2 separate regions of the Homo sapiens genome follow, and region 2 is reported to be linked to region 1. The links are microRNA targets in miRTarBase. Many come from high-throughput screens and were not tested one by one. Region 1 holds a microRNA gene; the other region holds the end of a gene's coding sequence.
What was found. The annotated mature microRNA hsa-miR-6855-5p reads UUGGGGUUUGGGGUGCAGACAUUGC and lies in region 1 at 2,538-2,562, shown strand. An mRNA with a match to its seed (bases 2 to 7 or 8) in the 3' UTR can be bound and repressed. Matches are read on the target gene's strand: a 7mer-m8 pairs with bases 2 to 8, a 7mer-A1 pairs with bases 2 to 7 and ends in A, and an 8mer does both.

Region 2: the mRNA of ZNF24 is a reported target of hsa-miR-6855-5p. Seed matches in the 3' UTR shown: 7mer-m8 at 4,271-4,277.

The regions. Positions count from the first base shown.
Region 1 is chr9:129,867,073-129,872,453 of GRCh38, forward strand. MIR6855 (microRNA 6855) reads left to right here and starts at 2,533; the gene lies at 2,533-2,599. It overlaps USP20 (ubiquitin specific peptidase 20), which reads left to right. Exons shown (of 26, transcript NM_001110303.4): 11 at 933-1,377; 12 at 1,790-1,930; 13 at 2,238-2,353; 14 at 2,600-2,772; 15 at 3,381-3,475. RefSeq lists an enhancer at 3,148-3,647.
Region 2 is chr18:35,332,866-35,338,246 of GRCh38, reverse strand. ZNF24 (zinc finger protein 24) reads left to right here. Exons shown (of 4, transcript NM_006965.4): 4 at 477-5,381. The coding sequence ends at 1,015. Among named protein-coding and RNA genes, the nearest start is that of ZNF24, 8.9 kb to the left of the region's middle.

The DNA.
Region 1 (5,381 bases):
GGATCAGAGCCTGGGCTGAGGGCTGCTTCTAACAACCAGGTCAGGGACTGCTGGGGCTGATTTGGGCTCGGAACCCAAGTCCTTCTCCAATGCCCAGCACCACCCGAGCACCCGCTAGCTGCTGGGGTCTGCTGCCACCACCACGTTCTGACCTCCCAGTGCACCCCCTGTGTGAGCACACAGATCTCAGTGGGGCTCACTGGGCGCCTCTGCCCGAGCCCCTGCTGCCTTGGCTTCCTGCTGTGCTGGTGGCCCAGTCACAGAGTGGTCAGGATAAAATGGTCATTGCTGGGATTTGAGACCCAGGCAGCCTGCAGGGGCAGCTTAGACTGAGTCATGACCAGGTCTGTGGGAAGGTGAGAGCAGGCAGTGAGGGTATGTGGGGGCTGGCACAGGGACTGAGGGAGCAGGGGGAGCCAGAGGAAGGGTAGAGCATGCAGGCAGTCTGGCCTGTGGGTAGCGTGGCTTGGGGCAGGACTCGGGTGAGTCCTCTTTTGGCATCACACTCCCTCATCCTTCCGCCACCCCCCTGCCCACCTCCACTGGTCTCATCTGTAGGGAGAAAGGTGGCTCGGGCTTAATGTGGTACTGCCTCTCTGTCCCTCCCGTGCTGAGCTTGCAGCAGAGGCAGGAGATTCAGAGCCGGAGCCGGGGAGTTGCATGGACCCAGGTGCATACCTGGCTCTGACACTTTCTAGCTGTGTGTCCTGGTAGGTGTCCTTTAGCCTCTCCAGTCCTCACTGTTATCCTCAGAAGAATGGGGTTAGGACAGACTGCCATGGGAGGCCGCTGTGGGGGTGAGCAACTCTTCTGCAGGGGGCGCCCATGAGGTCCTCCTAGATGGAGGCTGGCGCTCTCATCAGCCACAGGGCGCTGGAGACTGGTTCCTCCTGCCTCCAGGGGAGCCCTGTTGATGCAGCCCCTGGTTCTAGGACACCCAAGAGTTCCTTCGCTGCCTGATGGACCAGCTGCACGAGGAGCTCAAGGAGCCGGTGGTGGCCACGGTGGCGCTGACGGAGGCTCGGGACTCAGATTCGAGTGACACGGATGAGAAACGGGAGGGTGACCGGAGCCCATCAGAAGATGAGTTCTTGTCCTGTGACTCGAGCAGTGACCGGGGTGAGGGTGACGGGCAGGGGCGTGGCGGGGGCAGCTCGCAGGCCGAGACGGAGCTGCTGATCCCAGATGAGGCGGGCCGAGCCATCTCTGAGAAGGAGCGGATGAAGGACCGCAAGTTCTCCTGGGGCCAGCAGCGTACAAACTCGGAGCAAGTGGACGAGGACGCTGATGTGGACACTGCCATGGCTGCCCTTGACGACCAGCCCGCGGAGGCCCAGCCCCCGTCACCACGGTCCTCCAGCCCCTGCCGGACGCCAGGTATCAGCTGGCCGGGGACTGCGGGAGGAACCTCAGCCTATGGCCCAGTACCTACCGGGTGCTGAGCGCCGACCTGCAGTAGCCCCCGGGGGACGGGTTCTTCACTAGACCCGAATGACAGTGGGGAAGTCAGCCTCCGGGGGGGCTCAGTGATGTGCCCAGGGTCCCCTAGCTCATAATGCTGGAGCCCAATTCAGAGCCCTCTCCCAGAGCCCTGAGCCTTCCAGCCGGACATGGATTGGACAGGTCTGCTCCGGCCTGTGTGCTGGGGCCAGGAGTGGGCACATGACAGAGGAGACACATTAGGGTCAGGCTTTCGTCCCTTTAGGAGGGGCTGGCAGGTCATCTTCCTGCCCACTCGTGGAGCTGGCCTGGCTGCCCTGGCCCAGCATGGTACCCTCTCTGCCCCCAGAGCCGGACAATGATGCTCACCTACGCAGCTCCTCTCGCCCCTGCAGCCCCGTCCACCACCACGAGGGCCATGCCAAGCTGTCTAGCAGCCCCCCTCGTGCAAGCCCCGTGAGGATGGCACCGTCGTACGTGCTCAAGAAAGGTTCGGGGGGCACGGGAGGGTGGGTCAGCTTGAGGCTGGGAGTACAGATTACGCCCGTAGCTGCCTTTCTCATGGCCCCCTGTGGCGGAGGGCCGGGCTATGGGCTCCTCTCAGGTACACCCCTGAGACACCAGTGTGGGAGCCACGTTTTGCAGAGGATGACACAGAGGCATGAGATGGTGAATTGCTTACCCAGTCATGTGACTCACGGATGTCACTCCACATCCTGTCAAAGGAAGCCGCAGGGCCCGCACCTCGCCCCGGCCAGGCAGGTGGAGGCTGGGCTAGTCCTGTGCTGTGTCCCCAGCCCAGGTATTGAGTGCTGGCAGCCGGAGGCGGAAGGAGCAGCGCTACCGCAGCGTCATCTCAGACATCTTTGACGGCTCCATTCTCAGCCTTGTGCAGTGTCTCACCTGTGACCGGGTGGGTGCCCCAGGGATGGGGGGAGCTGGGCCAGGCTGCCAGTGGCCTCAGCAGCTCTTGCCCTGACTGGGTGCAGGGTGGGCTCTCCACGGGTGCTCCCTGCTTTTATCCAGGGGAGGGCCCTGCCTGCGTGGATCCCGTGTCTATGGCCTGGGGAGTAGTCCCTCTGCCCCTCACCTGCTGCTTGGGGTTTGGGGTGCAGACATTGCCAGAGGATGGGCAGCAGACTGACCTTCAACCCCACAGGTATCCACCACAGTGGAAACGTTCCAGGACTTATCACTGCCCATTCCTGGAAAGGAGGACCTGGCCAAGCTCCATTCAGCCATCTACCAGAATGTGCCGGCCAAGCCAGGCGCCTGTGGGGACAGCTATGCCGCCCAGGGCTGGCTGGCCTTCATTGTGGAGTACATCCGACGGTGCGCCCACCTTGCCACTACTGGGCGACATGGGCTGGGCCTGTCCTGGTTTTCCTGGGCGGGAGACAGTACACAGTGAAGTCCATGCATTTGGGGAACCAGGGAGGTCCTGGGAGGAGCTGGGGGCCGAAGCCTGCAGAGGAGTTGGCTTAATATGCAGGGGATTTCTTGGCTACTTTGAAGTGGCCAGGATTGGATAGTCCCTTGGAGCTGGAGGGCGATGGACAGCAGGGAGGTGACCACATGGCAGGTTGAAGGGAGGGCAGCAGCAGGACACAGGCCTGGTTGGCGGGAAGGGCAGCAGCTTTCCCAGGGCTGCCTCTCCTGCCTGAGGCCAGAGACCCGCATGACCCCAGGGAGGGGGTAGCATGATCATGGCCGCAACACAGATGAAGGAGGCCAGGCTTGCGGAGAGATGATGTCACTCGGCCCAGGACACGGACGTGTCTGGCTCCAGGCCTCTGCCCCGACCCGCCGTGCCCGGCTGCTTCTCTGGGCCTTCAGGGTCCTTCTGCGGCTCAGGCCTGACAGACCTCAGCCAGAGTCCCTTCAGCTCCTGTTCTTGCCCAGGCCCTGGCAGCACCCCTGCACTCCTTTTCTGTCTGTAGGTTTGTGGTATCCTGTACCCCCAGCTGGTTTTGGGGGCCTGTCGTCACCCTGGAAGACTGCCTTGCTGCCTTCTTTGCCGCTGATGAGTTAAAGGGTGAGGGGCCTGGCTGGCAAGGGTCGGGGAGGTGGAGGGTTGTGGGGACGGGGATGTGCAGACCCCAGCAGGCCAGCATGCAGCCCAGGGCTTGTGGGATGCACAGCCAGGCTAGACTTGGCTTCCAAGGTTGATCCCATCAGATACCCACGCCCACTGCCAGCCACGCTGGACCAGGGCCATGTGCTATCCCAACCCCATCATCTTGCAGCTCTTGAGTGTTCACTTATTTTTATTTTTACCAATTTGGTGGGCAAAAATGATGTATGTTAATTTTTCATTTCCTTGATTACTGATGAGTTTCTACATTTTTTGTTAAATATACTGGCTCTATGTATTTATTTAAACATTGCCCATTCCTGTTCTTGTTCTTTTTCTCCGTTGGCTATTTGGCATCTAAACCTTTGGGAAAACTCTCTCTTTTTTTTTTATTTCCAATTTTCAATTGCGATAAAATACACAAAATGTAAAATTTACCACCATAACCATTGTAAATGCTGTTTTTAACAGAAAGTGCACAGTCGAGTAGTGTTAAATACATGCACATGGTCACGCAGCCATCCTCCCCATTCATCTCCAGAACTTTTACATCTTGCAAACCTGAAACTCAGTATCCGTGAAACAGCTCCCTACTCCCACCTCCCAGCCCCTGGCAACCTCCACATTCAAGTCTGTGAATGTGACTACTCTAAAGGCCTCATAGAAGTGGAATTATACAGTACTTGCCATTTTGTGACTGACGGCTTTTACTGAGCATAACGTCCTTAGGGTTCATCCACGTTGCAGCGTGTGTGTCGGAATGCCCTGCCTTTTGTATGCTGGTTATTTATTGTTCCATTGTGTGGATGGCTGGGGCCTTTCTGCTTATTCGTTCATCCGTCAGTGGACACTCAGGCCGCTTCCCTGTTAGCTATTGTGAGGAATGCTGCTCTGACCATGGGTGTGCACACCTCTCTTCTTTCATCCCTTTGGGTCTATGCCTATTTTTAATTTCTCGAGGAGCCACCGTACTGGGTTCCACAGTGGCCACCCCATTTCACATTCCCACCAGTGACGCACAAGAGTTCCAGTTTCTCCACATCGTCGTCCACACTCATTTTGTTTACTTTTTTGATGGGAGTCAACCTCATGGGTATGAGGTGGTATCTCATTGTGCGTTTTTTTTGTTTTGTTTTGTTTTGTTTTTGAGACGGAGTCTCTCTCTTGACGCCCAGGCTGGAGTGCAATGGCATGATCTCGGCTTATTGCAACCTCCACCTCCTGGGTTTAAGCGATTCTCCTGCCTCAGCCTCCCGAGTAGCTGGGATTACAGGCACATGCCACCACGGCTGGCTAATTTTTGTATTTTTAGTAGAATGGGGTTTCACCATGTTGGCCAGGCTGGTCTTGAACTCCTGACCTCAGGTGATCCGCCTGCCTTGGTCTCCCAAAGTGCTGGGATTACCGGCGTGAGCCACCGCACCCAGCCTCGTTGTGGTTTTGATTTGCATTTCCTAATGATAGTGATGTTAAGTGTCTTTTCATATGCTTGTTGGCCATTTGTAAGTGTTTGGAAAAACATCTATGTGAGTCTTTTGCCTATTTTGTTTTTTGTTGCTTGTTATAGGGATTCTTTTTTTTCTTGAGACAGAGTCTCACTCTGTCACCCAGGCTGGAGTGCAATGGCATGATCTTGGCTCACTGCAGCCTCCGCCTCCTGGGTGCAAGCAGTCCTCCCATCTCAGCCTCCCGAGTAGCTGGGATTATAGGCACGTGCCACCACACCTGGCTAATTTTTGTATTGTTAGTAGAGATGGGGTTTTGCCATGTTGGCCAGGTTGGTCTCGAACTCCTGACCTCAAATGGATTTGCTGCCTTGGCCTCCCAAAGTGCTGGGATTACAGGTGTGAGCCACGGTGCCGGCCTC
Region 2 (5,381 bases), not on the chromosome of region 1:
CTGACTTGGCTTGTTCATTTCAGAAATAGCCACTTTCTGACATGTTTTTCTAATTTACATCTTTGTATTTTGATGTAATTTCTCCCTTTCTCAAAGTAAAAGAACATTATAATGATTTCCTAGTGGCCAATTTTATTTTATTTTTATTCTTACAAAGTTTCATCCATACCTAGCCACATCATTTTGACTATCTCCCTAACCATCTTAGAATCTACCATCTTTCTGACCTTTGTTTTCTGACTACCATTTGTAAACCACTTGCCTATGTTTTATTCAGATATCCCTTATATCATGATGTTATACTGTTATTCAGAGTAATTTCATTTTTTCTTTTTTGAGAATAGGCCTTAACACCAGTGTCAGAGTGGTTTATAGATGTGTGCTAGCTATTTTAGTTCATTAAAAAAAAAATTTTTTTTAGGTTTCTTTTCCCTTAATAGATAATGAATGATATTTACATTTTCTGTTTATTTCAGATGATGATGGTAGGACTGAAAATGGAGCACTAGCTCCAAAGCAGGAGCTTCCTTCAGCATTAGAATCCCATGAAGTTCCTGGCACTCTCAATATGGGTGTTCCTCAAATTTTTAAATATGGAGAAACCTGTTTCCCCAAGGGCAGGTTTGAAAGAAAGAGAAATCCCTCTCGAAAGAAACAACATATATGTGATGAATGTGGAAAACACTTCAGTCAGGGCTCAGCCCTTATTCTTCATCAAAGAATTCACAGTGGGGAGAAACCTTATGGATGTGTTGAGTGTGGGAAAGCATTCAGCCGAAGTTCCATTCTTGTGCAACACCAGAGAGTCCACACTGGAGAAAAACCTTACAAATGTCTTGAATGTGGGAAAGCCTTTAGCCAGAATTCGGGGCTTATTAATCATCAGAGAATCCATACTGGGGAGAAACCTTATGAATGCGTTCAGTGTGGGAAATCGTATAGTCAAAGCTCAAATCTTTTTAGACATCAGAGAAGACACAATGCAGAAAAACTTCTGAATGTTGTGAAAGTTTAAGAAATTGAAAAAAAAAAAAGAATCAGCACTCAGGTCTTTTTCTTCAGAAATGAAGACAAAATTTAAAATATGAAATGATGCAGAATAGTTTTTTCCCTATTGACTGTCAGAAAATCCACTGGGAAATGTAAAAATCTTCACTCACCATTATGATATTTATCTTGAAAGAAATGGTGTCATACCTGCCTAGAAACTGAAATTTTAAACTTAATTCAGGTCTTAATGCCTAAATTTTCCATGTGATGTTTATAGTCTGTATTACTTCTCCAAATAATGAACTACCTGATTCATTGTCCCTTTCTTGAAAGTTTCTTTTTTAAGACAAATACATTATTTCTGCATTGATCATTGAAATGTTCTTTATATGGATACATTCCCTTATATATTAAAAGGCAACAGGAATTACAAAGTCTGAAAACCATTTTAAACCATCTTTTAAAAATTTACCCTTATTTCCTTTTACCTAATTTGAATATGCATTTGAGAAAATAAGAGGATAAAGGATGGCTAAGAGCCTCAAAATGAACCATAAGATCTCAGATAAGAAGTGATGGTGATAAAACATCAAAAAGTGAATGGAACACCTTGATTGGGGAAGATATGCAAATACTTTGATCTAAGAATTGAAATGTATCAAGAATTTATATTTTGCCTGCAGGAAAATTCAAAAGCTACTCATCCTCTCTATAATTTGGAGTCATCTTACTAATGAAAATAATGTTTTCCCATATATTATTAAAAAGCATACAGTCTAAATAATAAACAGTTGTAAAATAATGAAGGTAGAAATTATAACACTAGGGAAAAATTTGTAGCGGATGGCAGTGTTGAAGGCAAATGTAAACATAAGGGTAATGGTCTGTCATGGCTTTTAGAAAAAGATGATAGAGTTCATCATTATTTTGCCTTCATCTTTGTTAAGGACAGAAAATTCCCTGACAGGTGGGCAAGTATCAGGTTACCTATTTTTTATTCCTTTGGTACAAAAGGGTTGAACGTCAGGCTAAAAAAGCAGCCATGCATTTATTATTAAACATTTTCTACCGACAAGGCACTGTGCTAGGTACTGTAATCCTACCATAAGTAGGTAGGTATTTCTTCCACTGTAAATCATAGGGGTTTGCTGTTTTATGTGAGTTAGCCTCTTCCCCTTGTCTGAGCATTCCTCAGGGGAGGTCACCTGTGAGGTTCCCAGAACTGTAGTTTTTTTTACCAGGGTGTTGTATTTGGAGGGGGAGGAGGACTCGGCTCAAAAGAGCTAGCTGGCTCTCCAGTGTTCAGAGGTGAGTCCACGATACTCTTACCACAATTTGGAAGTTTGTGAATCTTTTTAAAGAACTAATCAATCTCTAATAGCATTGAGGTTGTACCTACATATTAAGTTGAATGGACTGTTCTATTTAAAAAATAAACAACTAGACAATTAACTAGTTTATTAACCTATCACAATTGAATTTTTTTTTAATTTTCAGTCTTAACACATTTTTTAAAATGTATTAAAGTAATACATTGTAGTAGTAGGATTATATACTCCTTGGCTGAGAATTCCAAGTACTGTGGTTCTACTGTTTAGTGGAAAACTCTGGAAGTTAAAATATAGAATATGAGAGGAGGCTTTTTTATAATGGGCATCATTGTGTGGAAAATGACCCATGTGAATACAAATATTTCCTAGTTCAGAGATTTTGGTTATATCTGGTGCTTGGATCAAGTTTAAAAATGGAAGGTGAGATTTTGCATGAGCCTATTAAAAAGCATAGTAATAAATGCAAGGCCAGCTGGTGGAAAAGTGAGGCAGAATGGAGCTTGTTTATAGGTTTTCTGATAACAATTATAAAAAATGTGCTTTATAGATTAAGATTTATTGAAGTATAAATATGTAGTAATGATATAATGTATTTTAAGTTATACAAGAAAATGTAGGGACTTTTGTTTGGGTCTTTTTCTCTTTGTGGCTGAGGGGAAACAAGTCAGTGTCCAATAAAGCTGTAAACTCCTCTGCTCTAAGATAAATGATGTGATTTATTTATTTATAACTGGCTTCTTTCCAAGTAGGTTTTCAGGTGGCATATTTGGAAGACGGCTGGAATGACAGAATTCTTGTATCAGAGTAGGTAAGAAGGGAGCAACCTCTCAATGGCTATTATGTCATGCTTTTTAAGATCGTATGCGGTTCCTATATACAAGGAAGCTTCCCTGTGGTAGATTTGTCATAAATGCCAAAGATATTTGGTAATGTGAGTGTAGAAAAAGTAGTATGAGGGTTGGCAAATACTGTTTTTGTCTTGGCAGCTCTAATATCTGCATTGTTCAGAAAGGATTCTGAGGCTAAGGCAAAGCTCTGTGGGAAAAAGGGACTGGACCAAAAAAAACTGGATGGTGGCACACAAGAAGAGGAAATGATGAGATGTGTACTTTCTATCTCTGGTTAGGCTTAGTCCCCACTAGACAAATTGATTTTAAATACTATGTAGTGATTTTTAAATTCCATCCACACATTCATTACCCACACAGATAATCATAGAAATTTGGGGGAGTGCCTAGCTTCTGATGAAGTGGTGATATGGCAGTGCCAAGCAGTGGCATCGCCAGAGTATCTGTTTGGTTAGCAAATGAGCAGTCATTTTAGGTCATGCAGATTGCTGATATCTGCCCAGTAGCCACTGAGCATTTGCTGGTTTTTTCTTCTGGCTTTCTTGGAGGTTAAGCTCTCTGTAGTCATACCCAGTTGGTACTTGATCTTTAGCAATATGTCTCATATTCATGTAAATTGAAGGGAGGGTTACATGTACTGAAATAATCTGCATGCTAGGCATTGGCTTAGACACCGTACCTATCTCACTTAGATTTGTGGACTAGGAAAGCAAGATTCAGAGATCATGTGACTTGCATGTGGCCTAGAGATAAAATTCAAATCTGGTTCTGTAGACTCCAGGGACATATTCACCATGCCATGGGTGGTGGCTATTAAACCTTGATAAATTTGTGTTTATGGTTAACAAATGTGAAAGCTATTAAACATTGCTGGTTTGAATTTTTTACAGTGCAGAAATGTAAAATGAAAAAGGATATTTCCTTTCACAGTGTTACCGAGAAGTCATGATAATTTCGTTTGTTCTTCCAGATTTAGGCATATACTTATTTAATCAATAATGTGTTAACAGCTGACACCTGTGGTTGCTGTGACAGGCACTATTTGAAGTGCTTTATCATGGATTAACTCTTAATCCTCAGCTACCGTATAAAGTAGGACATAACCCCATTTCACATGCACTACACTGAGACTTGCCTCCTCTCCCCCCACATTGAAGATGTTCTTTTTTCATAACTATATACTATTCCATTGCATGAATATTCTGTAATTTATTTAATCCCCTATGGATTGATAATTAGGTTCATTATAGATAGAAGTGTAATTAACATTCCTGTACATGTATTTTGCTACTTGTGTGGGTATTTCTGTAGGATGAATAACTAGAAATTTATTGGATCAGGTTTCACATTTGCAGTTTTGAAAACTACTACCAAAAAGATTTCACCAATTTACAACTCCATCATTAGTAAGAATGCCTGTTTGCCTATAGTCTGCCAACCCTGAATCCTTAAAAATTTTTGCCAATCTGGTAGGCAAAATTTCTTTCTTTTCTTTGAATATTAATGAGGAGGAACATCTTTTCATGTTTCTTGGCCATTTGCATTTCCTATTATGAATTGCTTTTGCCCATTTTCCTTTTTTTAATTATGAAAGTCTAATGACTACCTTCTCATTGTATAAAAAACACAGTTCTTTGAATAGAGAGACCCTTTTCTCCAATGCTACCAATCACATTCCACTTACCACAGTTTAACATACATCCTCTAGTCACCTTTCCGTACGAATATACATACACATAAAAACACTTTTTACATAAATAGGATCTCATATTCTGTAGCTTTTTAAAATTTTGGTCTCAAAAAAAGATAACAGGTCTTTAAATTTCTTTAATGGTTGAATATGATTAAATACTATGAAAATGCCATTATTTATTCCCTTAATTTTTTTCCTCTCGCTATTACATTGCCAAAGTAAACATCCTATTCAGATGTCTTTGTGCATGTGTGTGAATATTTCTTTAGTCTGGAGTCCAGTAAGGTGGATTTTTGGATCAAAGGGTTTGTTCTCTGTCCACCTTCAGTCTTCCCAAAGGCCTTCATAACTGTATTTTCACCAAGTGTATGGAGAATGTTCATTTCCCCATATAACCATACCTACACTTGATAGTTTTTATCTGTTGGGCGAAAAAGAACCTTTTCTTATTTTGCATTTCCCTGATTATAAAAAAAAATGGTGAGATTGGGGTTATTTTCATGTTTATTGGCCATTTAT